Homo sapiens: one gene and its partners. The protein of the gene in region 1 interacts with the protein of each later gene in a biochemical or structural test. Each region holds a gene or a part of one and is shown in the gene's direction. Other genes may lie near its edges.

Evidence for each region.
Region 2: the proteins of NEK6 (region 1) and PTN form a complex in vitro, tested with the Homo sapiens proteins (one study listed by BioGRID).
Region 3: the proteins of NEK6 (region 1) and ARHGAP33 form a complex in vitro, tested with the Homo sapiens proteins (one study listed by BioGRID).
Region 4: the proteins of NEK6 (region 1) and RBBP6 form a complex in vitro, tested with the Homo sapiens proteins (one study listed by BioGRID).
Region 5: the proteins of NEK6 (region 1) and CIRSR form a complex in vitro, tested with the Homo sapiens proteins (one study listed by BioGRID).
Region 6: the proteins of NEK6 (region 1) and PRAM1 form a complex in vitro, tested with the Homo sapiens proteins (one study listed by BioGRID).
Region 7: of the proteins of NEK6 (region 1) and EML4, one has a biochemical effect on the other in vitro, tested with the Homo sapiens proteins (one study listed by BioGRID).

Annotation. Positions count from the first base shown.
Region 1 is NC_000009.12:124,313,378-124,317,271, forward strand, and holds part of NEK6 (serine/threonine-protein kinase Nek6), read left to right. Parts: intron 1-545; coding exon 546-608; intron 609-3,894. UniProt on the Homo sapiens protein: Protein kinase which plays an important role in mitotic cell cycle progression. Required for chromosome segregation at metaphase-anaphase transition, robust mitotic spindle formation and cytokinesis.
Region 2 is NC_000007.14:137,333,395-137,337,288, reverse strand, and holds part of PTN (pleiotrophin isoform 1 precursor), read left to right. Parts: intron 1-3,894.
Region 3 is NC_000019.10:35,773,986-35,778,593, forward strand, and holds the start of ARHGAP33 (rho GTPase-activating protein 33), read left to right. Parts: upstream 1-1,578; 5' UTR 1,579-1,673; coding exon 1,674-1,679; intron 1,680-2,112; exon of another isoform or gene 2,113-3,542; coding exon of another isoform or gene 3,543-3,659; coding exon 3,660-3,757; intron 3,758-3,838; coding exon 3,839-3,923; intron 3,924-4,294; coding exon 4,295-4,375; intron 4,376-4,478; coding exon 4,479-4,608. UniProt on the Homo sapiens protein: May be involved in several stages of intracellular trafficking. Could play an important role in the regulation of glucose transport by insulin. May act as a downstream effector of RHOQ/TC10 in the regulation of insulin-stimulated glucose transport.
Region 4 is NC_000016.10:24,545,950-24,549,843, forward strand, and holds part of RBBP6 (E3 ubiquitin-protein ligase RBBP6), read left to right. Parts: intron 1-213; coding exon 214-313; intron 314-2,995; coding exon 2,996-3,032; coding exon of another isoform or gene 3,033-3,086; exon of another isoform or gene 3,087-3,452; intron 3,453-3,894. UniProt on the Homo sapiens protein: E3 ubiquitin-protein ligase which promotes ubiquitination of YBX1, leading to its degradation by the proteasome.
Region 5 is NC_000002.12:174,378,511-174,382,404, reverse strand, and holds part of CIRSR (corepressor interacting with RBPJ 1), read left to right. Parts: intron 1-627; coding exon 628-701; intron 702-1,590; coding exon 1,591-1,601; intron 1,602-1,689; coding exon 1,690-1,754; intron 1,755-2,154; coding exon 2,155-2,203; intron 2,204-3,364; coding exon 3,365-3,482; intron 3,483-3,894. UniProt on the Homo sapiens protein: May modulate splice site selection during alternative splicing of pre-mRNAs. Regulates transcription and acts as corepressor for RBPJ. Recruits RBPJ to the Sin3-histone deacetylase complex (HDAC). Required for RBPJ-mediated repression of transcription.
Region 6 is NC_000019.10:8,492,513-8,496,406, reverse strand, and holds part of PRAM1 (PML-RARA-regulated adapter molecule 1), read left to right. Parts: intron 1-3,894. UniProt on the Homo sapiens protein: May be involved in myeloid differentiation. May be involved in integrin signaling in neutrophils. Binds to PtdIns(4)P.
Region 7 is NC_000002.12:42,298,233-42,302,126, forward strand, and holds part of EML4 (echinoderm microtubule-associated protein-like 4), read left to right. Parts: intron 1-3,008; coding exon 3,009-3,160; intron 3,161-3,894. UniProt on the Homo sapiens protein: Essential for the formation and stability of microtubules (MTs). Required for the organization of the mitotic spindle and for the proper attachment of kinetochores to MTs. Promotes the recruitment of NUDC to the mitotic spindle for mitotic progression.

The DNA of each region.
Region 1 (3,894 bases):
TTTTTTTTTTGAGATAGAGTCTCAGTCTATCACCCAGGCTGTAGTGCAGTGGCGTGATCAGCTCACTGCAACCTCTGCCTCCCGGGTTCAAGCGATTCTCCTGCCTAGGTCTCTTGAGTAGCTGGGACTACAGGCGTGCACCACCACACCCAGCTAATTTTTATATTTTTAGTAGAGACGGGGTTTCACCATGTTGGCCAGGCTGGTCTCGAACTCCTGACCTCAAGTGATCCACCCACCTCAGCCTCGCTGGGATTACAGGTGTGAGCCACTGTGCCTGGCCCGCCCTCTCCATCTTCTGGGGAGGGGCTCACCTGGGCTCTCTGTCTTGGTTCTTTAGTGCCACGATGGGTTTTGTGGTGGGACAGTGCTGGGGGGACCCACAGTGAGCAAGCCCTACAGGGGCTGGGAGTGCAGGGGGGGGTCACAGAGTCCCTTGGTGAGGAGGTGGGAGAGCCGGGACTGGAAAGCAGACCCCGTGGCCTCCTTTGGGTCACTGGACACAGATTGTAACCACTCTATTTCTCTTTTTCCTCCCGCCCAAGATCTTTGAGATGATGGACGCCAAGGCGAGGCAGGACTGTGTCAAGGAGATCGGCCTCTTGAAGGTGAGCACCCTGGGCCGAGCGGGAGCTTTGCCTCCTCGGGGAGGTTCTGGGGCCGCGGCTGGGCCACATCATGTCCATCACAGCCCTTGGGTGCCAGGAATCCGCAGCCCCTGCTAAGTTAACAGACGATAGCTTTCTAGGGGCAGCGGCTAGTGAGTTTTCTCCTGGCCAGGCAGGAGCGGCCCGCCTCATCGCTCTGCCCAGCCCTTGGGGTCGCTGCCTACAGCCTTTCCTCCTTGCTGCACGCCCCTCCTGCTTGTACATGGCAGTACCCGGCATAGAAGTCCTTCCCCACAGGGCAGCCCTGACCCTGCCTCGCAGTGGCCTATGGACCAGGCTTGGCTAGGGGAGGAGTTCATTGTGGGGACCACATCCAGACTGCAGCCTGTCTGGCTCTGCCTCTGTCTCTATGTCTGTCTCCCTGTTTTTCTCTTTCTCATCCTCTTTCCATCTCTCCTCTCAGCCTTTTTCTTTGGTTTTGTTGGTAGTGGTGGTGGTGGTGGTGGTGGTGGGTTTTTTTTTTATTTTAGAGGCAAACTCTGTTGCCTGGACTGTAGTGCAGTGGCATGATCATAGCTCACTGCAGCCTCAAACTCCTGGGCTCAAGCAATCCTCCCGCCTCAGTCTCCCGAGTAGCTGGGACCACAGGCGCATGCCACCACACCTGATTTTTATTTTTTATTTCTTTTGTTTTTTTTTGAGACAGAGTTTTGCTCTTGTTGCCCAGGCTGGAGTGCAGTGGCACAATCTCTGCTCACTGCAATCCCCACCTTCTCGGTTCAAGCAGTTCTCCTGTCTCAGTCTCCTGGGATTACAGGCACCCACCACCACACCCAGCTAATTTTCATATTTTTAGTAGAGACAGCGTTTCACCATGTTGACCAGCCTGGTCTCAACCTCCTGACCTCAGGTGATCCATCCACCTCAGCCTCCCAAAGTGCTGGGATTACAGGCGGGAGCCACCGCACCCGGCCCCCCATGAAACATACTGGATTTGCTCGGCAGTTTCCAGCAAAGTGGGACTGCTGGTGGCAGGGCTGCCCGCCGAAGCCACAGCTGCAGAATTTCAGATTAGCAGTTTTTTCTGCCACACGCTGCCCTGTGTTCTCAGGCCTTGGCCCTGCTCTTGGGGACTTCCAGGCTGGTGGGGAAGCAGGTAGGAAGCAGATGGTGACCTTCCAGGGTGATGCAGATTGACTGGTGGGCCAGGAGCCCCAGGGAAACCCGCTTCCTGGGCAGGCCTCACAGAGGGCAGGGCACCATCCCAGAATCTGGAAGGCCGAAGTGAGCCTTCTTCCAGGCACCGCAGCACCGTGGATTATGGGAGGTTGGGGAGACAGAAGGCTGGACATGGCAGCAGAGCCAGATACACACTCAGAACAAAAGGGGAGCCCCTGAAGTGGCTGCAAGTCGGGGGGCCATGGCTGGGTGTGAGTTGTGAGTGCCTGCTCTGGTGGCCCCCGGCCACAGTGGGTGAGGGAGTCAAGGCTGGAGGCAGGAGGTGTCCTTACCACTAACTATTATAGGTCAAAAAATATCCCTCGAAAACATTGTTTAAATGTTTAAGTAATGGTCAGCTTGCTGCCACTTACCCAGCCCTGAGGAATGTTTGTCCTGATCACCCATTGCCCCCTCCCCACCTCATGTGCCCTTCTCCCCGAGTGAAGGAACCCACAGGTGAGCATGCTGAGCACAGCCTGGTCTGGTCCCTGGTCACACAGATGTGCCACCGCAGCCCCTGCCTTGCAGGAGCCTGAGCCTGGCGTAAACCCACATGGCTGCAGAGGGGATTTGGTCCCTTCTCCAGGGCTGCCATGCAGCCAAGGGCACCAAGCCGGGGTTTCAGAGGACACACCCCTCGCTCACTAGCTGTGTGGCTGCAGGCCAGCCATGGGCCTCTCAGGACCTCAGTTTCCTCATCTGTAAAGGGGGCATGATGACAACAGGGACGCTGGAGGAGTCAGTGAGGAAGCATGTCTGACGAGCTCAGGGCAGCGCTGGTGTGTGGTACGCTCGCCGCCCAAGGCAGCCCAGTTGTCATGGTTGCCACCTCTGCCCGCCAATGCCAGCCGCCTTCCCGAACACGGGTCCCACTCCACAGGTAGCCCATGGGAAGTCAACAGGATGTGCCAGGGCACGAGGTGCTTCCTACAAAACAAAAGGAAACGTGGTTTTCGGAGGGGTGACTGTTGACATATCACATCATTCATGCAAAGAACCCAAACCCAAAACCTCTCAAGTGCGGGGGCTGGTGGGGTCGGCAGCTGCCAAGCGTGGGACAAGAAGGTGGGTCCTGTTGGAACGCAGGCGTGTGTTCATTCATTCTGTGCAATTTCTGATCACCACTGAATGCTGGACACCAGGGTGCAGCCCAGTGGAGAAGACAGATCATAGACACTCTGTGTTACATCCGGGAGGGCCTGGAGCTTGGGAGCAGAGCCCCTGATGGCAGAGATTCAAAGGACAGGGACCCTTACTCTCAGCTCTCCCTCCCTTCCCTCTGGCCACCACCACAGCCAGACAAAGCCCAACCACATTGCGTCTTTGCAGCACCTTCCCTGTCCCTGACCCAAGTGTGTCCCCTTCCAGACCCACCTGGGCCCACCAAGAGGCCACAGGCTGTGAAGTGGACTCCATGTGGACCAGGTTCTAGACTCAGCTCGGCCCCTGCTTGCTGTGGACCCGTGGCTGATCCCTTCCCCTCTCTGGACCTTGGCGATTTAGCCCAATGGACGTCTGGAGCCCCTTTCTGCCTGTGCCTGTGTAGACTGCCTGGGCATTTAAGGGAGCCCTTCCTTAACCCCCTGCCCTCAGACGTGCAGGGAAATGGGGGAGGAGTCTCCCTCCTCCCCTCCCCAGGAACCAGCGCCTCCTTGATGGGGCTTTACTTCCTACCCAACCCCTCTCATTTCTCCCTTGTTGGAGAAACTGTGTCATGCCTGGACTGCTGATGACCTGGGCAGTTTTTGGGGAGTCCTCCCTGAGAGGTTGTGAGATTTCCTGGTGACATAATGAGGTGAAGTTCAAGAGGAGGGTGAAGGAGCAGGGTGTTCCCATTTATCCTCATAGCAGCTTGCCCACGCCGTAGGTCATGTCTCAGAGATTTGAAGGCACTTTCAACTTGCCATTCACTTGCTTTGACACTTTTTTTGGTAACTGAAAAACATGTCTATGGAGCATGATGTGTGCTGAGGGCAGCGATGTGATGGCCAGTGTTCGCGCAGGACGTCCTTTTCAACACAAAATCTGGGCAAGAGGATTTTCTTTTCTTTCTTTCCTTTTTTGA
Region 2 (3,894 bases), on another chromosome or scaffold:
TTAGGCTAATAAATAGATTTTATCTCCCATTTGTCTCTCATGTCAAACCCCAAATCCAATGTATGTACAGTTAGAGGTCAAATAACCTACAGCAGCAGTTCCCTGTCTTCAATGTTTATCAGATTAACTAGCGTCATGTGTAGGTTCCAGCTGCCTGGAGCCCATCTTCAGCAGTTCTGATTTAAGAGGTGGAATCAAGGACCCTGGACATACGACAGGGCATGTGGATACGGATGAAACATTAGAAACAGTAGCCTTAATCGCTCAATATTTGAGCTCCAAGGTCCAAAATACTGAGGTATAAACCACTGCACTTCTTAGTAGCTCTGTGACCGTGAGCAAATATTGTGGTCTTTCTTACTTCAGTGTTTTCATCTCTAACATGGGAGCACATACCTACCTTCCAGGATTGACGTCTGAGTAGTAATTGAGAAAATCAATGTGAAGTACTGAACATAGAGTCTGATTGCTGGGAGTGTTTGAGCAGGATGGTGAAAATGATGATCATGGTGAAGCAGCACCAGATGCAAGTCCTCACTTCTTCCCCCTCCTGAATTGCTTTTCTTTCTCATGCCCACTTGGCATCTGCAACAAACATACAAGCAAAATCCTAGGTGGAATTCCATGCTTCTTGAAAGGCCTCGCCCCTCCACATGCTCATACCATTTTCTTCCTTCTCTCTAAATGCAGATTGAAAATCCTTTCTTCTGGAAGAAAACATACGGAGCATGTGATCATGCTCAAGGCCTGGGGGTTGGGCAGGCAAAGTCTCCGATGCAGACTCTTTGACCTTATCCCTTCCCATAAGGTATAGGAGAGCATTTTGCATACAGAAGACTCCCAATCCAAGAGACAGGCACTTTATTGCTGACCTTAGTGATGCTCATAACCACATTCTCTCTGACCCCTGCTGATAGAGGCTTCAGTCCAGGGAAGGAGTTAAGGTTTGGAGTCAGGAACCAGCATCTCACCACAGTCCGCCTGTTGTTTGGTATGGGCTGCTGGATGTGCCACTGAATCTTCTGAAATCTTAGGTTTTTTAGCTCTAAGTGGGAAATGATGATGATGTTACTTGTTTTGCCAACCTCATAGGTTGGTGGTAAATGTCAATGGTCACGACGCAACATCTGTAAGCTCTAAACTGTTATACTGAACATGAACTGAACTTAATAAAGTCAGTGGGGCAAGTTCTGCCTTTCTGGTTTCCCAATCCTGCTATTGTCATTGTCATTTTCTCAGGACACACAGAGATTGCCTAAGTTGCTTGAAGGTAAGTTTGACTCACAAAGTGAGGAGGAGGTAAGATGTGCGACAGGAATGAAGAAAAAGAAATGAGTCATACTAAAAAAAAAAAAAAAAAGCGAGAAGACATCTTAAATGAGGCTGAACTGAAACAGGCATGCTTTCTTTTACCTCAGATTATGTTATATTTCCTTCTGAAGTGTCTTAAAAGCTACATGTCACATTTTTTAATTGGTTATTCTCACTAAATATAAGCCTTAGTAATTGGCTAACAGCAGTTCATTTACATGATAGCTGGATAACTGTGCTTCTCAAACTTTCATGTTCATACCAGTCACCCAGGGTCTTTGCCAAAATTCAGTAGGTCTCCAATGAAATCTCAGAGTCTGCTTTTCTGCCAAGCTCCCAGGTGACTGCAGTACTGCTAGCTTGGCGACCTCTCTTTGAGTAGCAAGCCACAACAGTTTAATTCAACAAACTTGAGGGAACAGGAGACAAATCAGAATGCTCCAGTCATGATGTCCATAGCTTAATAAAAATGATGAGGATCATTGTCAATATGTTATATGCAAAAGCTTCTAAAACTTACATCTTTGTGACCAAATAATATTTACAATGTATGATTATTTATGAAAGAAAATTGCAGACACCACCTGATTTGCTATTGACTTCACTGAAGTTCCCTTAAGTGTAAAAAGCCCCTGGCCAGATGTTGCACTTGGGCCTCCTTACCAGTGCTTCTGCTGGGGTCTTTCTCGGAGAGGGTGTAAGTGATCCAAATGTTGCCTTCTTCATTTGCTTTAAAAGCTAATGAAAAGTGTTTAGAAAACTTCATTCTTTTTTTTTTATTATTATTATACTTTAAGTTTTAGGGTACATGTGCACAATGTGCAGGTTAGTTGCATATGTATACATGTGCCATGCTGGTGTGCTGCACCCATCAACTCGTCATTTAGCATTAGGTATATCTCCTAATGCCATCCCTCCCCCCTCCCCCCACCCCACAACAGTCCCCAGAGTGTGATGTTCCCCTTCCTGTGTCCATGTGTTCCCATTGTTCAATTCTCACCTATGAGTGAGAACATGTAGTGTTTGGTTTTTTGTCCTTGCGATAGTTTACTGAGAATGATGATTTCCAATTTCATCCATGTCCCTACAAAGGACATGAACTCATCATTTTTTATGGCTGCATAGTATTCCATGGTATATATTTGCCACATTTTCTTAATCCAGTCTATCATTGTTGGACATTTGGATTGGTTCCAAGTCTTTGCTATTGTGAATAGTGCCGCGATAAACATACATGTGCATGTGTCTTTATAGCAGCATGATTTATAGTCCTTTGGGTATATACCCAGTAATGGGATGGCTGGGTCAAATGGTATTTCTAGTTCTAGATCCCTGAGGAATCGCCACACTGACTTCCACAATGGTTGAACTAGTTTACAGTCCCATCAACAGTGTAAAAGTGTTCCTATTTCTCCACATCCTCTCCAGCACCTGTTGTTTCCTGACTTTTTAATGATTGCCATTCTAACTGGTGTGAGATGGTATCTCATTGTGGTTTTGATTTGCATTTCTCTGATGGCCAGTGATGGTGAGCATTTTTTCATGTGTTTTTTGGCTGCATAAATGTCTTCTTTTGAGAAGTGTCTGTTCATGTCCTTCGCCCACTTTTTGATGGGGTTGTTTGTTATTTTCTTGTAAATTTGTTTGAGTTCATTGTAGATTCTGGATATTAGCCCTTTGTCAGATGAGTAGGTTGTGAAAATTTTCTCCCATTTTGTGGGTTGCCTGTTCACTCTGATGGTAGTTTCTTTTGCTGTGCAGAAGCTCTTTAGTTTAATTAGATCCCATTTGTCAATTTTGTCTTTTGTTGCCATTGCTTTTGGTGTTTTAGACATGAAGTCCTTGCCCATGCCTATGTCCTGAATGGTATTGCCTAAGTTTTCTTCTAGGGTTTTTATGGTTTTAGGTCTAGCGTTTAAGTCTTTAATCCGTCTTGAATTAATTTTTGTATGAGGTGTAAGGAAGGGATCCAGTTTCAGCTTTCTACATATGGCTAGCCAGTTTTCCCAGCACCATTTATTAAATAGGGAATCCTTTCCCCATTGCTTGTTTTTCTCAGGTTTGTCAAAGATCAGATAGTTATAGATATGTGGTGTTATTTCTGAGGGCTCTGTTCTGTTCCGTTGATCTATATCTCTGTTTTGGTACCAGTACCATGCTGTTTTGGTTACTGTAGGCTTGTAGTATAGTTTGAAGTCAGGTAGCGTGATGCCTCCAGCTTTGTTCTTTTGGCTTAGAATTGACTTGGCGATGCAGGCTCTTTTTTGGTTCCATATGAACTTTAAAGTAGTTTTTTCCAATTCTGTGAAGAAAGTCATTCTTAATATGAAAAAGATATATGTAATATATTTACTTAGTGTTAAGAGTCTTCCCTTCTTTCACATTTTAACGTCTATAACTGCATTAGACTCTTTCCTTCCATACCATAATGGAACTAGACCAGGAATCATCCATCTTTGTGACTTCCTTGAAGACGGTGGGGCTGCCCAGAGAAACAGCCAGGGCTTTTTGCTTCAGAGTCCAGATTTAATTAATAAGGAACATATTGTGGTAACAGTCTTAGGTAACACAGAAAATCTTCAC
Region 3 (4,608 bases), on another chromosome or scaffold:
TTTTTTTTTGAGACAGAGTCTCACTTCAACACCTAAGCTGGAGTGCAGTGGCGCGATCTCGGCTCACAGCAAACTCTGCCACCTGGGTTCAACCCATTGTCTTGCCTCAGCCTCCCAGGTAGCTGGGATTACAGGCACGCCCGCCGCCACACCTGGCTAATTTTTGTATTTTTAGTAGAGACGGGGTTTCTCCATGCTGGCCATGCTGGTGTCGAACTCCTGACCTCAAGTGATCTGCCCGCCTCGGCCTCCCAAAGTGTTGGGATTACAGGCGTGAGCCACCACGCCTGGCCTAATATTCTATATTTTGTTTAATGTTAATTTTGTTCATTGTCTTCTCCCAGTAGCTTTTGAGCTCCAATGTGGGCAGGGTATATTTTCTCCTGGTTTGGTTGTTGATGTATGTACAAATTGATTAGAGTTTGAGTGAATGAATGAATGAATGAATGAATGAACAGACCAAGACCCTCTGAGATGAGAATTTGTTGAGGGCATGACTAAGGAGAGACCCTCCTGTGAAGGGCGTTATTACAGTGTTATCTGGGCATGCTCAGTATTAGCAGGCTCCATTGGGAATGGCTTTATGGGGGGCATAAGCATGATCTGGCATTTCCCCCTAAGCATTTTCCTAGAAAAAAAAAATCAAGGCTGGAGATTGGCCCGTAATAAGCAGTAGAAGGGGAAACAAGAAAATGTCCAGTGGGCAGGGGAGGCCAAATCGCAGAAAGCCTCGGGTTACGTCCTAGGCAAGGTATATGAGGCAACGAGAAACGTCCATGGGCGGAGCGTCCTCGGCATTATGTGAGCGGGGTCGGGATCAGGACTGAAAAGGTGAGACTTGGGACTGGGACTTTGAAAAGCTGCTTAAGGAACTGGGCACTGCTCTGAGGCCGTGGGAGAATCCAATTAAGACTATCAGGGGCTGGCTGGCGTGGTGGCTCACGCCTGTCATCCCAGCGCTTTGAAAGGAGGCTGAGGAGGGAGTATCTCTTGAGCCCCAGAGATCAAGACCATCCTGGGTAACATAGTGAGACCCCCATGTCTAAAAAAAATTAGCCAGGCGTGGTAGCGCACGCCTGTAGTCCCAGCTACATGGGAGGTATCGCTTGAGCCCAGGAGGTTGAGGCTGCAGTAAGCCACGATTGCAGGACTGCGCTCCAGCCTGGGCGACAGAGTGAGACCCTGTCTCTTAAAGAAATAAAAATAAAAAAGTCAGAAGAATGGACACTGGGAGTGGACGAAAGGTAGGGTCCATTGCTTGGTGTTGGAAGTGTCGGAAGCAAAGCATAAAGAACCTGGGGGCTTGTCTCAGGAGGGCGATGACAGCCAATGAAAAGCAGTCATGGGCGTGGCGCTGTCAAACTTCGAGGGGCGGGACCGAGGACACAGAGCCGGGGCGGAGCCCAAGGTGAAACCAATGAGAAGCCTCCGGGTGGGCGGGGCATCGGCCTAAGGCCAAGGGCGGAGCCAATGAGAAGCAGCGCCGCGTTCCCGCTGCCCCCCGCCCCCGTGGGGCGCGCGCCGGAGCCACGGGCAGCCGTTAGGGGCGGGGTCTGCAGCCGCCCGCGCGCGGCTCGCGCCCTCCCCTTTGTGTCGCCATGGCGGCGGCAGCGGCGACGAGAACGGCGAGCGAGGGGTCGAGCGCGGCCGGGGCCTGAGGAGGCTACGCGACCATGGTGGTAAGGGTCCCACGCGGCCGTCAGCCTGTCCGTCCGGATGTCAGTCTGTCCGTGCGCAGCCCCGCCCCGCGCGCCCCGCCCCCGGCCCCGCCCGATCCCGCGGCCTGTGCTTCAGCCGTGGTCCCTCCCGTCCTGCGGCCCCATCCCGGGTCCCAGCCCGTACCTCGACCCCGCCCCCTAAGCGCGCATCCCCGTCTTCCACGCCCTGGATGGGGTGACAGGGACCTAGGGCCTGGGCTGGGAGGAGGCGGGGCTAGTCCAGGAAGGGACCCGCGCCACCCAAGTGGCCCCTGCAGGGGCCTCCTGAGGCTCCTGGGTCCTTCCCCAGCTCCCATCCCAGCACCTTCCTCGGCATCCTTCTGCCAGCCCTCAGCCCTCCCCGGCGGAGCCCCCTCCTCCTCCCCACAGCCCCTTTCTCATTCCCGAGCCCCACCCCCCACCCGCTCCATCCCCAGCCTGACCCTTTTCTTCTCCTTCTCCCTCATTTTCACCCTATCCCAGTTCCTCTCAATCCCCCCCGCCCCGCATCAGTCTGAGCCTTTGCCTCGTCTCTCCAGCCACTCCTTCCTTACTCCACCCCAACAGGCCAGCACTGTACCTCCCTTGATCCTCGGGTCTGCTCCATCTCCTTGTCCTCATCCCCCTCCCCCACCATTTCCCTCTCCCACCATGCTGCTCCCGCTCATTCATCCATTCATTCCCTCACTTAGCAGACATTCACTGAGACCGCCTCTGTGCAGGCCCCACGCTCCAGGCACAGAGAGAGTCAGCTCCCATCCTGCCTTGGGGAACCTTATGGGCTGGAGGGGGACAGACCCTGAGGGTGAGACCCTGAGGGTGACTGGGGGTTGCAGGGACATGGAGCAGGGAGACGCTACAGCCCAGTGAATCTGTCTGGCAGCTGGTTAATTTATTCATCAGATTTTACCCAGTCCCTGCTGCGCGCGACTGGGCTGGCACTGGGGACCCAGAAAAGAATCAGGAACAATCATGTCTGAACACCAACTCAATGCCCAGCTCTATGCTGGGGAGCTCAGTCTGGGGCCCTCCTTCTGGGAGGCCGGTCATAGTCCAATGAGAGAGATGAACTTGTCACCACCAGTGCCATCTCAGAGTGATCAGAGCTGTGAAGGGAGAAGCTCTGGTCAAGGCATGGAACCTGGGATGGGGGAACCTCAGGGGATGGAGAGAGTCCAGAGGAGATGCCAGGTGCAGCCTGAAGGGTCAGGGAGAACTTCCTGGAGGAGGGCACATGTGAGTTGGGACCTGAGGGGTGGGAGTGAGGATGAATGTACCCAGGGAAAGGTGGGGCGAGTGTTCCAGGCTGAGGGAACAGCCTTTGCAAAGGCCTAGAAGGAAATGAGAAGAGGGTGCTTTTTTTGGACTCTTAGAAGTTCAAGAGCTCTGAGAGTGGGGGCAATGGGAAGAGATGGGACTGGAGAGGTAAACAGAAATCAGCTCAGGGAAGTCTCGATTATCAGACCAGAGAATTCAGACTTCGTCTTGAAGACAACAGGGAGTCATTGAAGGCCCAGGATCTATGGAGAAATAGAGCCAGATTTGTGTTTTCTGAAAACGATCCAGGCTATTGCGGAAAAGCTGGCAGGAGGGGAGAGGCTGGAAGCAGGAAGGCTGATGAGATGGGAGTTGTGATTGTCTAGACAGTGGTAGGAGATCACTGTACTCTGCAGGGGCTACGGAAGGGTTTTCAGCAGGGAGAGATGGGACCAGCATGCTCTCCATCCTGTTGCCCCGCCTCACGTCTGGCCCCTGCTTCTCCAGTCCCCCACCCCAGACCACACACGAAGAAGCAGTCCTGTCCTCAGCCCAGCCCTCACCTCCCCCGACCTGCCATCCTGCTTCATGCTCAGGGCGGTGTGTGGAGCGCCCGGGGCTCTGGACCCGCGCTGCCAGATAACAATGCTCTCGTTGTCTCTTTGCTCCCATCTCTGGGGGCCTCTGATTCTTTCTGCTCTACAGGCACGCAGCACTGACAGCCTGGATGGCCCAGGGGAGGGCTCGGTGCAGCCTCTACCCACTGCTGGGGGGCCCAGTGTGAAGGGGAAGCCTGGGAAGAGGTGAGGGTGAGGGAGGAAAGGGCTCAGCTAGGAGCTGGGGAGACTCAAGGAGCTGCTGGTGACGCATCCCCTGTCTCCCAGGCTCTCAGCTCCTCGAGGCCCCTTCCCGCGGCTGGCTGACTGCGCCCATTTCCACTACGAGAACGTTGACTTTGGCCACATTCAGGTATGGGGGCTTTGCATTTGCACCCAGGAGGGAAGACAATATCCTACCCAACCTTGCAACGATATCAGGTGCTTTGCTTCTGAAACTTATCCCTGTGACTGGCTGCTGCACGCGTCTGAGCAGTCAGTAGCAAAAGTTGCAGGAGCCACAGCAGATGGGGAGAGCTGCTCATTCATTCATCCATTTGTTCTTTTATTCATTCAACAACAACTTTTGTTAGGTATCTGCTCTATGTCAGGGACCAGGACATCACCAGGCCCTGTCCTCGGGGAGGTCCAGAAGGGAGTCACAAACCCGTCCCTAGATAGTGCCATCCCCAGGAGGTCAGGACTGGGACAAAAGTCCACCTGGGCCTTGCTTTCCCTCTGCAGCTCCTGCTGTCTCCAGACCGTGAAGGGCCCAGCCTCTCTGGAGAGAATGAGCTGGTGTTCGGGGTGCAGGTGACCTGTCAGGTGAGGCCATCCCGCCTCTCATCTAGCCTGAGAGAATGGCCACTGTAGTCCTCAGCTCGGTGTCATGGGGCCCCTGCTCCCTTCTGTCCCTCTGCTCCCACAGGGCCGTTCCTGGCCGGTTCTCCGGAGTTACGATGACTTTCGTTCCCTGGATGCCCACCTCCACCGGTGCATATTTGACCGGAGGTTCTCCTGCCTTCCGGAGCTTCCCCCGCCCCCCGAGGGTGCCAGGG
Region 4 (3,894 bases), on another chromosome or scaffold:
AGAACCTGCTGATGATATTGGTTGTCCTTTGAAAAGAAGCCCTCTTAGGGCTTTGGATGTTTGTTCTGACAATATCAGTAATCTAGTTGCAAGGAACTTGTAGTTATTATATTTAAAGTCATTTCCCATGAAATTTATATTTGAAGTTTTCTAATTCTTGGTTACGCACTCAAATCCCCAAATGGAAATTCAATTCTGTCTTTTTATTTACAGAATATACTGATGATAATGCTCTGATTCCTAAGAATTCTTCTGTAATTGTTAGAAGAATTCCTATTGGAGGTGTTAAATCTACAAGCAAGACATATGTTATGTAAGTATCAAATCTCATGTATTTCTCAAAATAGACTTTTTTTAGTTTTTTTAATTTTGTGAGAAAAAACTGTATTTTAGAACTGAACTCATTACTTTAACCTTAATGAATACATCTTCTCAAGACTGTGAGGATAGTAGGTTTCTTTGTTCGTTTGTTTTTGATTTCCTCCCCCAGTTAAATTGACTTAGCCTGTTGTGAGAGGGCCATTATTAGGAAAAATTTTTCTCCATATGGCCAGTATTTACAGATACAAGAAAGTGATATTCACATTATTTCTGTGCCTTTCTTTGACTACTTTTTTTTGTGGGGGTTCCTTCAGTTTTCTTCACTACAAAAATTTGGTGTTGTAGACATCGGTCCTAAATATTTTGACAGCATCAAGAGTATTCAGTAATGCTAACATTTACTCTTTATCAATAAGGGGCTTTGGCTGAGAGGCATAAAGTATATAGGATTTATAATCATGGGCACTGAAATCAGGCTTAGATTTGACTCCATTTACTGCTTCATACCAGTTGTGTGACTTTGGACCTTGGGTAAGTCTCTGTGCCTCAGATTCCTCAAAAATAAAATAGGGACGTGAGTACTTAACTCTAGAGGGTTGTAAGAATTAAATAGTGTCTGGCACATGCTAAATGCACATTATTGGAGTAGGAAGAGAGCAGTCTCACAACTAGTCCGGAGCTGGTATTCACTAACCTGGGGCAGGATTAAAACCTTATATCCTTAACTTTCTCTGCTTTCTTGCAATTTCAGTAGTGATAGCAGAACTATAATATGTGAAAAGGGCAGCAACATAGGTTATTTAAAGAGTAGTGATTTTCACTTAGAATTAGGTAGTATTGTTTGAAATTGGAACAAATTATTTTGAGTCAATGAAAAATTCTAGAATTTGCCAGTGCTAGGGAATGGAAAGTGTTCTTGAAATTAAGGTAAAAATAAAGTCATTTCTTGGAGCTTTACCTCATATGGGCAAGTATTCTAAGATTTTTCTCATTAGTTTGTTGTAAAGTTATATTCCATATCTTAACACTTAGAGGTCCTTTTGTGCAGTATCTTCCATATAATAGCTACTTTAAAAAGCTGAATACTTTCCTTGTTGTAATTGCCAAGTGAACTTTTAATGGTGTGTGTTCTTAACTTTAAATGATTCTAAGAATTATATATATATGTGTGTATATATATATATTGTTTTGTTTTGTTTTGTTTTTTCCTGAGATGGAGTCTCACTCTGTTGCCCAGCCTGGAGTGCAGTGGCACAATCTTGGCTCACTGTAGCCTCCGGGCTCAAGCGATTCTCCTGCCTCAGCCTCCCAAGTAGCCAGGATTATGGGTGCCCACCACCAAGCCTGGCCAATTTTTGGATTTTTAGTAGAGACTGGGTTTCACCATGTTGGCCCGGCTGGTTTCAAACTCCTGACCTCAGGTGATCCACCCAACTTGGCCTCCCAAAGTACTGAGATTACAGGCGTGAGCCACCGCACCCAGCCTAAGAATTATAAATTTATGGGGAGAATTAATTCCTACAATCCAGTGTGAAATTTTACTTTAATTTACCAAGTGCTTTTTAAAAAATGGCAAATGTATTTTCTGTAGATTTTTTGATAGAAACTCTTAAGAATTATTTGAAGTACATGGCAAAATAAGTTGCCTCTTACACAGAATTATATGTTAATGTACAATATATAGGGTTCTGTTTGTAATAAATTTGCCTCATAAAATGCATCTCAGTTTTTTTTTGAGCAAATACTAGAAAATCAAAGCTCAGTTTTTTTTTTATCTCAAATTCCAAATTATACACACACCTAGAAACTCCTGTTAGATGCTAACATTTCTCTATAGTCAAGATACCTTAAACTTTAAGCATTAAAAGGCTATAATCTAGCAACTCAACTTCTTCCCCTTTCCTGTGTGGATTAAAATAATTTCTTTTGGGGTTTATGTCTTTTAAACATCAAATTGTCCAGTTCTACACAGCCATTTAAGTCAGTTCTTTTAACTAAAATACTCTGATTATATTGTGTTTTTCTGGGAGTGAGAATTTTTGTTCAGTTTTTTTTTTTTTTCTGTTTTTAAGAGATGGGGTCACTATGTTACAGCCCAGGTTAGTCTCAAACTCCTGGGCTCAAGTGATCCTCTCACCTTGGCCTCTTGTTCAATCCTTGATTGTTGTTTTGAGACATTTGAAAAATGAAAATAGCTATCAGCCTGGCCCTCCAGATTTGAAAATTAGTTTTGGGAGCACAGCAATTTCTCAGGGATTCAAATTACAAATGTTAACAACAGCAGTCTTCCTGATGTGTGAAAATTTACGCATTCAGAAACTGGGAAATTATATAATTTAAAATTTTCAGTTTATTAAGAATAAACTACGTTTCTAAACATAAAATCCCTATACTACCTTTCAGAAAACATTTGTTTTAAGTGGCAGGGTACACCTATTTTTGAATTCCCTAGTATGGAATTTTTTTCCAAACCACAAATCTATCTTAAAACTGCTCAAAGGTGGTAAAGATTAATCAGAGTAATTTATTCATTCAGAAATTGGCTGTTAAATATTTATACCAAAGGAAAATTAGGTTCCTAAAAATGTATTATTGAAGATAATGTGTTAAAATTTATTAGCACAAAAATTCATAAATAGCTAATGTTAATTTTTGTTTTTATTTTGTGTTTTAGAAGTCGAACTGAACCAGCGATGGCAACTACAAAAGCAGTATGTAAAAACACAATCTCACACTTTTTCTACACATTGCTTTTACCTTTATAATGTAGCAGTGAAGTAAATCATTTTAGAACTTAATATCCAACTGATCATAGTACATATTGTAAATAAAATGTATTTTGATGACAGCTCAGTTGAATATGGATAATATGTGGCATCACTTGCACACTTATTTTGTAGAAATGGGTAATTTGTGCCCGTAACACTGTTTCATATTAAATATGATAGCATTATCCCTGTATGACACTGTGTTGTACAGTTAATGTATGATCCTTTTTAGATCGTTTAGGTTTTACACTAAGGAACATGATGACATGTTCTACATTTGTCTGTCTATAGTTAGTATTTTGTATGTATGTACAGGCTGTTGTGTGCTTTTTGTTTCTTGCAATAAAAAATGTTTGGAGTGTATATTTTGCCATTTTCACGTTGTATCACTTAGTTTTTGTTAGTTTTTTTTTTCCTGCCTGATTTATGGCTTCCAAAAACGCATTAGCAACATGCAAAGCTTATATTAAAGTTTGATGCTTTCTCCAAGTTCAAACACATCATAGAAAAGAGCTTTCCAGAGACCATTGATGCAGCTTTATTATTTAGTCTTGCTTTATTTGGCATTTTGAGCTCCTTCTTTTGTTTACATCTGTACTATAAAGTGAAACCTGAACCTGGGGCCCCCTATGAATATATAAGTGTCTTAGTGATTTTGAGTTTATATAAACTGATTATATTGTTTTCAAAGTTTAATGAGATCTTCCACTTCTATCTAGTTAGTGCAGATGTCCAAATTAAAATATTTCCCTCTTATACTAAAATGCTGCGTTAATTTTAGGCCATTGAAAGCTGTACCTTATCA
Region 5 (3,894 bases), on another chromosome or scaffold:
GGCCTCCCAGCGTGCTGGGATTACAGGTGTGAGCCACTGTGCCCAGCTGCAGACTTTTATTCTTTTTTCACTGGCCTCACGAAAGAATTTTATTTTCTCATTTACTGTGACTCTTACAAGCCCTGATTGGATTTGACTTCCTAAAGAAATCCCTGAGAGACTTATTTTTTCCAAAACTGATTCCTTTGCCTTTTCTTTTTTTGGTGGGAAAAAACAAAACCGTTTGATCCCTTACAATCAAGAAAAAGTGTTGGCACTATTTAACTTAATTGTAAATTTGTGATGGCATATGGGATTTCAAAGTTGTCATAATTTCCACAGCATTTCAGGGTTTAAGAAAATCCTGTAAGAAAAATGACCATGTTATTTTTCCCCTTTTTTGTTAGGATGGGTAGGATCTCTCAGGTAGTAAGAAAGTCTCAGAGCTTATAACTAGTTACTAAAGAGACAGCACTGTTTAATTTCCATTCAGATGTAATCTAGTTAGTGGAGTAAAGTTTTAGAACTCTGTTTCTAACAAAAATATTTTATCTTAATTCCCTTAGGCTTTTTGGTGGGGAGTGGATTATTCTATAATTTTTTTTTTTGTCCTACATAAAATCGTTAACTTTGTCTTGTTTCACTTAGATTGCTTATGGGAGATGAACGTGTAAAGAATGGCCTTAATTTCATGTATGAAGCCCCACCAGGAGCTAAAAAAGGTACTTATCTTCTTCCGTTTCTTTTTTTCTTTCTTTTTTTTTTTTCTGAGGCACAGTCTTGCCCTGTCGTCCAGGCTGGAGTGCAGTGGTGCCATCTCAGCACACTACAACCTCCATCCACCTCCTGAGTTGGAGCAATTCTCCTGCCTCAGCCTCCCGAGTAGTTGGGATTACAGGAGCACGCCACCACGCCTGGCTAATTTTTGTATCTTTAATAGAGACAGAGTTTCACCATGTTGGCCAGGCTGGTCTTGAACTCCTGACCTCGTGATCCACCTACCTCGGCCTCCCAAAGTGCTGGGATTACAAGCGTGAGCCACCGCACCTGGCCTCCTTCCTTTTCTTTTAAGTCTTTGATGTGTTTGCAGCTAAACATGGAAAAGTACTATGACAGATATTTTTTTAAAGTTGCTCTCCATCTTTTAAAATTGCTGTTATCCTGTGAAGATAATAAAAACTATAATCATACAACAGAATAAATACTAAAAAATATCTTTCTAATCTGATAATATTTCATAATGTGCCCTTTGAGAAGGAAGAAACTTTCATGTCCAAAGTACACTTATTCTTTAATAATTTGCATATGTATCTTTAGTCCTTCTTACTAAATATTTAATGCATTTGTAAATAAAAAACATAATATTCACTGTCAATGAACAGTGAAAAGTTTAAAAACTGTGAATTAACATACTTATTAATTTTAATTTTGTATTTTGTCCTGCAATAGTCTGAATTTTTATCATGTGAAAGAAGAAAAAAAGTCAAACCAATGAATTCTTACAAGTGACAATTAAATAACATGATATCATAGTGTATACAGTAGATTTTTATATTGAAGTTTTTAACTTGTCATACCTTTTTTCTTCCATATTTTTGATATGCAATCAAGAAAACAAAGAGGTAAAGTACTATTTTCTATGTCTGAATTTACTTGCAGTTGATTGTATTATATGGAAAAATTAAAAGAATTTTCAATGAATGTTTTTAGAAAGAAGAAACAGAAGGAGAGACCGAATACAAATTTGAATGGCAGAAAGGAGCCCCACGAGAAAAGTAAGGACTGGTTTACTTTTAAGACAAGATATGTATCATTAAGTTTACATTTACTGATATCCCATCTTATGTTGCTTTTTCAATCATTAGAGGAGGCAACTGATGTGAAAAGTTATCTTTAATGATTTTAATTAGCTGTCTTATTCAACTAATCTGCTTGCTCATAGTCTTTTGTTTTATATACTTTTTCATTTTTTTAATATCACAAATTATCAGACTAGACACATAATAACTAAATGGTGTTTGGAAATACTAGATAGATTTTATAGTTCTGTATTCTTACTGAAGTAATATATTTCATAATGTTCTTAGAACTGTAAAACTATTTTTCTGATTAACTGCTGTTTAATTTTTTAAATTATTCTTAATATTGTGTTTGTACATTTCCTCTATTTAATAGATATGCCAAAGATGACATGAACATCAGAGATCAGCCCTTTGGTATTCAGGCAAGTGACACATATTTTACTCTGTAAGAATAATTTTTATTTAATAAATGTATCTTTATATTGTTGTCTAAAAGGTGTTTAAGCTGAAAAGGGGCACTATGGTTTTTATTTGTATCAGATAATATAAGGAATAGAGGAGAAAACATAAAATGTAGTAGGCTGATAAAAGACAGAAATCAGGCTGGGTGTGGTGGCTCATGCCTGTAATTTCAGCGCTTTGGGAGGCCGAGGCGGGCGGATCACAAGGTCAGGAGTTCGAGACCAGCCAGGCCGACATGGTGAAACCCTGTCTCTACTAAAAATGCAAAAAATTAGCTAGCCATGGTGGCAGGCGCCTGTAATCCCAGCTACTCAGGAGGCTGAGGCAGGAGAATCGCTGGAACCCAGGAGGTGGAGGTTGCAGTGAGCCGAGACTGCACCATTGCACTCCAGCCTGGGCAATAGAGCGAGACTCCATCTCAAAAAAAAAAAAAAAAAAAAAAAAAGACAGGAATCAAACTTTTATAGTGAGAGCTATAATGATATTGGTCTCTGCAGTTTTCAAAAAATTTGGAGAATCAGCTCAAGGTCAAGAAAAGATTTAAATCTATTATTGGTTTAGAATCGGGACAGACTATCATCAGAGGGCAAATCCTTGTAAAGAAAGTTTTATTGGAACACCGCTTTGCCTATTCATTTACTTATTGGCTGTGGCTGCTTTCCCACTGCAGCAGCAGAGTTGAGTCGTTAGAATAGACAACATCTGTCCCAAAAAGCCTAAAATATTGACTACATTTGGACCTTTACAGAAAATGTTTACCAGCTCCAGGTTTTGAAATTTGAAACTTTAAAGGTTTACTTATTAAAATGAGAGAATTTAAGCTTAAATTCTTCACATAACGCCCTAATTCTTTTTGGTATTTTACCATTTCTTTTTGGATGACATTATATTGCCACCAAGTGAGAGGCAAAAAGAAATGGGATTCAGCTTAGTTTCTAGGCAAAATTTATAGTGAAAGATTTTAGTCTTTGTATTAAATTACCAAACATAGTTTGGAGTCTTTTTCCCTGGAGATCTTTTAAAAATGTAATTTAGCTTAAATTCTATCAAGGAATAGGAATTTGAACATTGGTTAGATTCTTACTTTTTTAGTAACCAAAATCACATTCATTATTTCTCAGGTTCGAAATGTGAGGTGCATTAAATGTCACAAATGGGGTCATGTCAACACAGATCGAGAATGTCCTTTGTTTGGTCTTTCTGGAATCAATGCAAGTTCGGTTCCCACTGATGGCTCAGGTAGGCACTAGACATGATTTGTTTCGGGAGAGGACAAACAAGGAAAGATAAAACAACATTTTTCTTTACTCTTTCTGGGTATTGTTTTATTTGGGTTTGTGTGTGGGGCTTGTTTGTTTGTTTTTGACTAAGACCATTCCCAAAATATGATTAATGGGAAACTCTGATCATATATGTTGAATTAAAATGCTGTGTAATAGGATTAAGTTTAATTTTTCCAGCCAAAGGCCCTATGAACTAAGTTTTAAAGTAAAATACATTAAACATAGTTTATCAGGCTAGTAGCCTAAAAATGGAAGGAAAAAATGCTTATTTCTCATACTCATATCCTGAATTATAAAAATAGACTGTACTGAAAGCCTCAGCAGCCATCTCTTTTTAGTACAGAGGTAAAAACAAAGCTGAGTATGTT
Region 6 (3,894 bases), on another chromosome or scaffold:
CTCGCTCTGTTATCGCCCAGGCTGGAGTGTAGTGGTGCCATCTCAGCTCACTGCAACCTCTGCCTCTTGGATTCAAGCGATTCTCCTGCCTCAGCCTCCCAAGTAGCTGGGATTACAGGCGCCCACCACCATGCCTAGTTAATTTTTGTATTTTTAGTAGAGCTGGGGTTTCACTACATTGGCCAGGCTGGCCTTGAACTCCTGACCTCGTGATCCGCCCACCTCAGCCTACCAAAGTGCTGAGATTTCAGGCGTGAGCCACCACGCCCAGCCTGATTTACTTAGACCTGTTGTGTTCAAGGTAGCTGAGGGGATGTCCAGGCAGAACTTGGGCCTGAAACTCAGGGGGAGGTGTGGCCTGCAGGCAGGTGTGGCAGTGGCAGGGGAGGGAGGCTGCCAAAGGTTTCTTAGAAGTTTGTGCTGGGTGAATAGGGAGCAGGCCCGCACCTCCTGCCCAGCTCCACAGTTAATGCCTTCATGAAAACACAAGCAGCTTCCAGGCAAGCACCTTGCCTGCCTGTCCCTAAATCTGTACCCTCCACTCCCTGCATGTCCCTAAATCTGTCCTTAAATCCGTACCCTCCACTCCAAAGTTAATGCCTTCATGAAAACACAAGCAGCTTCCAGGGAAGCACCTTGCCTGCCTGTCCCTAAATCTGTACGCTCCACTCCCTGCATGTCCCTAAATCTGTCCTTAAATCCGTCCTTAAATCCGTACCCTCCACTCCAAAGTTAATGCCTTCATGAAAACACAAGCAGCTTCCAGGCAAGCACCTTGCCTGCCTGTCCCTAAATCCGTACCCTCCACTCCCAAATCCCCACAGGGCAGTAAGGCAATGCACCCCCATTTTACAGATGCACAAGGCTGGCCCGGCGTGGCAGCTCACACCTGTCATCCCAGCAGTTTGGGAGGTCCGGTGGGCGGATCACTTGAGGTCAGGAGTTCCAGACCAGCCTGGCCCGCATGGCAAAAACCCATCTCTACTAAAAATAAAAAAACTAGCTGGGGCCGGGCGTGGTGGCTCACGCCTGTAATCCCAGCACTTTGGGAGGCCGAGGCGGGTGGATCACCTGAGGTCAGGAGTTCGAGACCAGCCTGAACAACATGGAGAAACCCCATCTCTACTAAAAATACAAAAATTCGCCAGGTGTGGTGGTGCGTGCCTGTAGTCCCAGCTACTAGAGAAGCTGAGGCAGGAGAATCGCGTGAACCTGGGAAGGAAGGGTTGCAGTGAGCCAAGATCACGCCATTGGACTCCAGCTTGGGCGACAGAGTGAGACTCAATCTCAAAAAAAAAAATGAGTCGGGCATGGTGGCATGCACCTGTCATCCCAGCTATTCGGAAGGCTGAGGTGGGAGAATTCCTTGAACCCGGGAGGTGGAGGTTGCAGTGAGCTGACATCGCGCCGCTGCACTCCAGCCTGGGTGACAGAGTGAGACTCTGTGTCTGTCTCAGTTGAAAAAAAAAAAAAAGGCCAGGCGCAGTGGCTCACGCCTGTAATCCCAGCACTTTGGGAGGCCAAGGCGGGTGGATTGCCTGATGTCAAGAGTTCAAGACCAGCCTGGCCAACATAGTGAAAACCTGTCTCTACTAAAAATACAAAAAATTAGCTGGGTGTGGTAGCAGGCGCCTGTAATCCCAGCTACTTGGGAGGCTGAGGCAGGAGAATCGCTTGAACCTGGGAGGCAGGGGTTGCAGTAAGCTGAGATCCTGCCATTGCACTCCAGCCTGGGTGACAGAGTGAGACTCCATCTCAAAAAAAAAAAAAGAAAAAAAAATAGGTACGCAAGGTTGAGGCTCTGGGATGGGGCTTGCCCTGGCTTGCACAGCTGGTCCACGAGCTGGATCTGTGGCAGGGCTTTCAGCGGGGGCCAGAGCTTGAGCTTCTAAGGTGCTCCTGCTCTCGCTGACAGCCTCAGAGGGCCTGGGGCAGAGAGGCCCCCTCTGCTTCTCCTGGGCTTTCTCCCTGAGCTTCTTGCAACACCTCCCTGTGAGCACACAGCTTCCTGGTGGGGCCCCTTCTGCTTCCGCTCTAGGGGAGGCTCTGTGGCTTGGGTCTGGGGGCCACCGTTGGGGATGCGGATGGCCAGGAGTGGGGCTGCTGAGCGCCTGGGCTAGTGACAGCCTGCCTCCAACCACTCCCAGAAGCCCTGCTGGAATCCCCCACCTCTTCCGAGGCTAGGAGCATCTGCCTCTCCTCAAACTTCATACAGTCCCCACCCTTGGCCCATTGTTCCTGTCACCAAATAACCTTCTCCCCCTTCCTTGCCAGTCATTTGAGGTTCTGATAGGAAAAAAGAAAAAAGGGGCCGGGCGCGGTGGCTCATGCCTAAAATCCCAGTTCTTTGGGAGGTGGAGGCAGGCGGATCAGTTGAGGTTGGGAGTTCGAGACCAGCCTGGCCAACATGGTGAAACCCCGTCTCTACTAAAAATACAAAAATTAGTTGGACATGGTGTTGCACACCTGTAGTCCCAGCTTCTGGGGAGGCTGAGGTGGGAGGATCGCTTGAATCCAGGAGATGGAGGCTGCAATGAGCCGAGATTGCACCTCTGCACTCCAGCCTGGGCAACAGAACGAGACCCTGTCTCAAGAAAAAAAGAAAAAAAAAAAGGTCCCACTTCCCTGGATCTCCCGCTTCTCAGGAGTGGCGTGGGCTTCTCACTGTGGGTGCAGCTTCTCAAAGGCAGCTTAGGTCTCTTGGGGCCAGGACTCTGGACTCCCCTTTCCCACTGTCTGCCTTACTTGGAGCAGTGGCAGCTCCACTGCAGAGGTTCCTGGAAGGCAGGGGGCTCCTCTGCAGGTGGGGAGAGCCCAGCCTTTCCCAGGGATCTGAGCTGGCCATGCGGGGAAGGCGGGCAGAGGCCTGCTCTGGGTCAGCTGTGGATGAACCAGGGCTGCCTGCATGGCGGTGCCAAGAGGTGCTCTAATGTGGCGGGTTTGCAGGGACCCTGGAGTGCCAAGGTCAGGTTCGCTCCTGGTGGAGTGACTGCTCACGGCCAGGGAAGCCTCTGAGAGGCAGGAGCAGCTGGAGGGGCTGTGTGTTCCAGGTGAGACTGTGGATGGCCATGCCTGGTATCTGGCGGGCACGATTCAGGTGCTGCTCCTTGGGCTGCTTGGAGGGACTACAGGCCTGAAATGTCCGGCGGGATACTTTGAGCCATTCGGAAAGGACATGCTGGGGCTCTGGGTTCTGGATCTTTCACTCACCAGGGTTCCTGGGGCTCCCACCTGAAGCCAATTCCTTGGCCAGCAGGGCTCTGACTTGGGAGCCTGGTCATTTGCCAGGAAGTGGCACAGGGAGACTGGCACCATGGGAGACCCCTCAGTCCAGAGTCTCATCATCAGTCACCAGTCCAGGACGCTTACCCTAGCAGCATCTTTTAAAAATTATTTTTATTTACTATTTTGAGACAGGGTCCTGGTCTGTCGCCCAGGCTGGAGTGCAGCGGCGCCATCTTGACTCACTGCAACCTCCAGCTCCCAGGTTCCGGCGATTCTCCTGCCTCAGCCTCCTGAGTAGCTGGCATTATGGGCGCCCACCACCACACCCGTCTAATTTTTGTATTTTTAGTAGAGACAGGGTTTCACCATGTTGGCCAGGCTGCTGTCAAACTCCTGACCTCAAGTGATCTGCCCGACTTGGCCTCCCAAAGTGCTGGGATGACAGGCATGAGCCACCATGCCTGGCCATGATATTTTACTGTCAACTATCATTGCCCTCCTGTGCAATGGAACACCCAATTTCTTCTTCCTAACTGTAACTTTGTACCCATGGGCCAGCCTCTCCTCATCCTCCCTTCTGCCTTAGTTTTTCACCCAAATCTCATTACAGTAGAACCCCAGAACCTACCGGGTGCAGTGGCTCAGGCCTGTAATCCCAGCACTTTGGGA
Region 7 (3,894 bases), on another chromosome or scaffold:
TTCTTTAAACAGGCACAGAAAGCCTTCCAAACATCTTTATTTGGCAGGCAGTGTAAACTTGCTTTTTATGGAAGCTTTGTGTCTGTTAGAGATGAGAAGAAAGGGTGAGGTTTGTGATTAAGTTTGGATGGACTTGACCATATGAGTAAGCCTGAAGGCAGAGTAGGTTTTTTTAATTCAAGGATAATTATTTTCCTTGGCAGGGATTTCAAACATTATTTGGCAACTGAAATATCAGAAATACAGGCCCATAAGAAAGACATCTTTGGCTATAAATTTGTTTTACAGGTAAATACTATATAAAGGAAACTTTGATAATTTGTTTAAATTAGAAACACTAAATTTTTTAAGCTAAGTCGATACTAGGTCCACCTCAGGAAATAACTTTCCTGGAGTGAGAAGGACTCACTGACTTGATCACTATATAGAGTATTTTTATTTCTGATGAAGCATTTTTTTCTTCATTTTTTTTTCCAGTTTTCCATCATTCTGGGAGGATTTTAAGTGTTTAACAAGGTTTTTGTCATGTTTAGAAATACGGAAAGCAGACTTAAGCATAGAAAAGCTTTATTTTCTTACATTCTGATAGAGAACTATGAAACTCCCACACCTTTGCTTTTTGTGTTTTCTTACATGATACCTTCAGGCTACTCTTGTTAGTTTGACCATGCACAGGGAAATAAGCCTAGAATTTGCTTTTCTCTATTTTTATTATCCAAATAAAGCCAGTAGTACTCTCAGAAAATTCTCATCTCTCAGGTGTCCTCCCTCTCGTGGTAACATCAGAACAGAGATAGATACTTATCTACCTATGCCAGTGAACACAGTTGTGTTGTTCAATTTTTAAGGTATTTTTAGATGATAAATATTGATGTAAGTGGAGACAGTTGACCTGAACAGCAAGTTTGTTGGAGTTCTACTTCCAGCTCTGCTGAATTGGGCAAGTTCTCCTCCAAATCAAGCAAGCCCTTTCCTGTCTCCCTGCCATATATACCCATCTGTTAAGTATTTGTACCACTAGCATACTCAAACTGAGACATAATTTTTTTTAGGATACCAAAGCCTTAGAAATTTTAGTCAATTTGTTAAGTATAATAGCAGCTCAAATAGATGAGTAAAAAAGAACAATCTCAGTAACAACTTCGATATATAATTCACATACCATGAAATCTACCCTGTTGAAGTATGCCTTTAAGTTCAGTGGTTTTTAGTATATTTACAAGGTTGTGCAGCCATCACCACTATCTGACCTAAGGACATTTTCATCACCCCAAAAAGAAAGCCTGTACCCATTAGTAGTCACTTTCTATTTCTCCCTCCCCTCAGCCCCTAGGTAACCACCAATTTCCTTTAGGTCTCTATAGATTTACTTGTTGATGACATTTCATATAAATGGAGTCATACAATGTGTGGTCTTTTATGACTTGCTTCTTTCACTTAGTTTTTTTTGTTTTGTTTTGTTTGTTTGTTTTTTGAGATGGAGTTTCACTCTTGTTGCCCAGGCTGGAGTGCAGTGGTGCGATTTCGGCTCACTGAACCTCCGCCTCCCAGGTTCAAGCGATTCTCCTGCCTCAGCCTCCCAAGTAGCTGGGATTACAGGCATGTGCCATCATGCCCGGCTAATTTTGTGTTTTTAGTAGAGAGGGTTTTGCCATGTTGGCCAGGTTGGTTTCAAACATCTGACCTCAGGTGATCCACCCACCTCGGCCTCCCAAAGTGCTGGGATTACAGGTGTGAGCCACAGTGCCCAGCCTTCACTTAGCATTATGTTTTTAAGATTCATCCATGTGGTGGTAGCATGTGTCAATACCTCATTCCTTTTTATGGCTGAGTAATATCACATTGTATAGACATACTGTGTTTTTAAAATCTATTCATCAGTTGAGGAACAGTTTTAGAAAATGAATAGTTGTTAAACCTGAATTTTTTCAAGAGGACTAAGGGCTGTTTATTGACTTACTTTGGCCATATTTCAATAAGGTTCTACCTTCCCATTTTGAACCTGGTAACTAATTCTGTAGGACATCATCTTCCAAAAAGCTTTACTCTTGCTCTGCTAGCCTATCTAGCTAAAGAGCTTCTCTGAGTAAGGCATTTATGAATACCAAAGAAAAAGGTATGAGTACTATCATCTTATTCTCACCCTTAAAAGGGGGCAAAATATAATTTAAAAAACCACATGTGTTTGCCTAAAAGACCTTTTATGTACCCCCTTGGTCTCTCCCTGGGTACTTAACAAAGTGTGCTATGGGTATACAAGAAAACTGGGCTGTTATTTAGCCATCACATTGGTACAGCTGAATCAATTTTTAAAATACTGAAATTATTCTCTGCTAGTAGGTCAAAAGCCATCACTGCAGGTATCCATTGCCTACCTTTGTCCCAATAACTTCTGTAGTGCCCCCATATCTCAGCAAATAAAGGGGAGTAATCCTTGGCACAGCAGAAGGCCTCTGGGTTAACAATGGTTGTAAAACGTTAAACGTTGTGACTGTTACCTCAGAAGGTCAACCAAAGATGTTTTTGCAAAGTTAAAGGAACATCAAGGTGGGAGACTTGAGCCTAGTCACAGCTTTGTTATTAGCTAACTATGTGGTATCCCCTAAGCTGCTCCTGTACCTCTTGTGTCTTGAGCTCTCATATCAGAAGAGTGACACCTACCCTAGCTACCATACAAGATGATTATGAGAGATAGTAAAGTTCTGAAACCTATACTATATCCCCTTTCGTCTGTGGAATTATCACTACTTTTGCTTTGGTTTTTTGTAGGAAAATATTTTGAAATATTTTCAGAGTAAATAAATATTGACAGAAATGCAAAAGATTGTATTATACCCTAAACTTTACTACCTGCTTTGCACAAAAGACTTGCTGAAAATAGGTTTTTGATTGAGTCATATGAACTTTCTGATTATTAACTCTAGTTCTACTGAAGTTTTCTTCCAAATAGACACTAAAATCTGAAGAAAAGTATTATCACTAGTGTTTTTATTTTTCCCTCATATTAGGTGTATATCAAATCAGCAAACAAATCAAAGCTCATGATGGCAGTGTGTTCACACTTTGTCAGATGAGAAATGGGATGTTATTAACTGGAGGAGGGAAAGACAGAAAAATAATTCTGTGGGATCATGATCTGAATCCTGAAAGAGAAATAGAGGTAAGGATGGAAACGGAATATAAAAATATTAAATACTCTAAACTCAGGTATTTTGTCCCACATTAAGATAACTTATACTTTTCTGGCAAACTTATTAAATTCTTATAATTTCATTTCCTTTCCTCAAGAAAGGAGTTTGTTGTTGCCTTTAAGATAACTTTTTTCAAAAAAAAAAGACCATTAAAATAATTTGAAAGACTATTTTTAAAGATTAGGCAGAATAATTTGCCTGTTAAAACCAGAGCAAATGTCACAAAGTTTAATTTTTCTTCTCTTTTTTGGTGATTTATATTTTGGATTTATGCTTAGTGTTTTTTTTTCTACGTGTAGCATTCTTTCCAGAGAAAATCTTCTGGAAAATCCTCTTAAAAAGAGGATCCTGATAGTACTGCTCTTGGATTTTATTTCCAGGAAGATAGATAATAAAGAGTTGCTTAATCACAACCTTCAGTTCATACTGAAAATGCAACTTCCATCACTGTTTTCTTCACAGATAACTCATATCCTTTGTTAATAAAAGCTATACAATCTAGTTCACTCCTTCCTTTCCCATTTCTAATGTAAATTTGGATTCCTCTTAGAGTTCAGTTATTTGTATTTTTAGGAGTAATTTTAGATCCCACTTGATAAAGTGGGATTTATAATTCCATTATTTCAGAATCATTCTTTGAGATTATTATTAAATGTATTAACACAGCATTCACTGAGATTGTTCCATGTATTGCATTAAATGA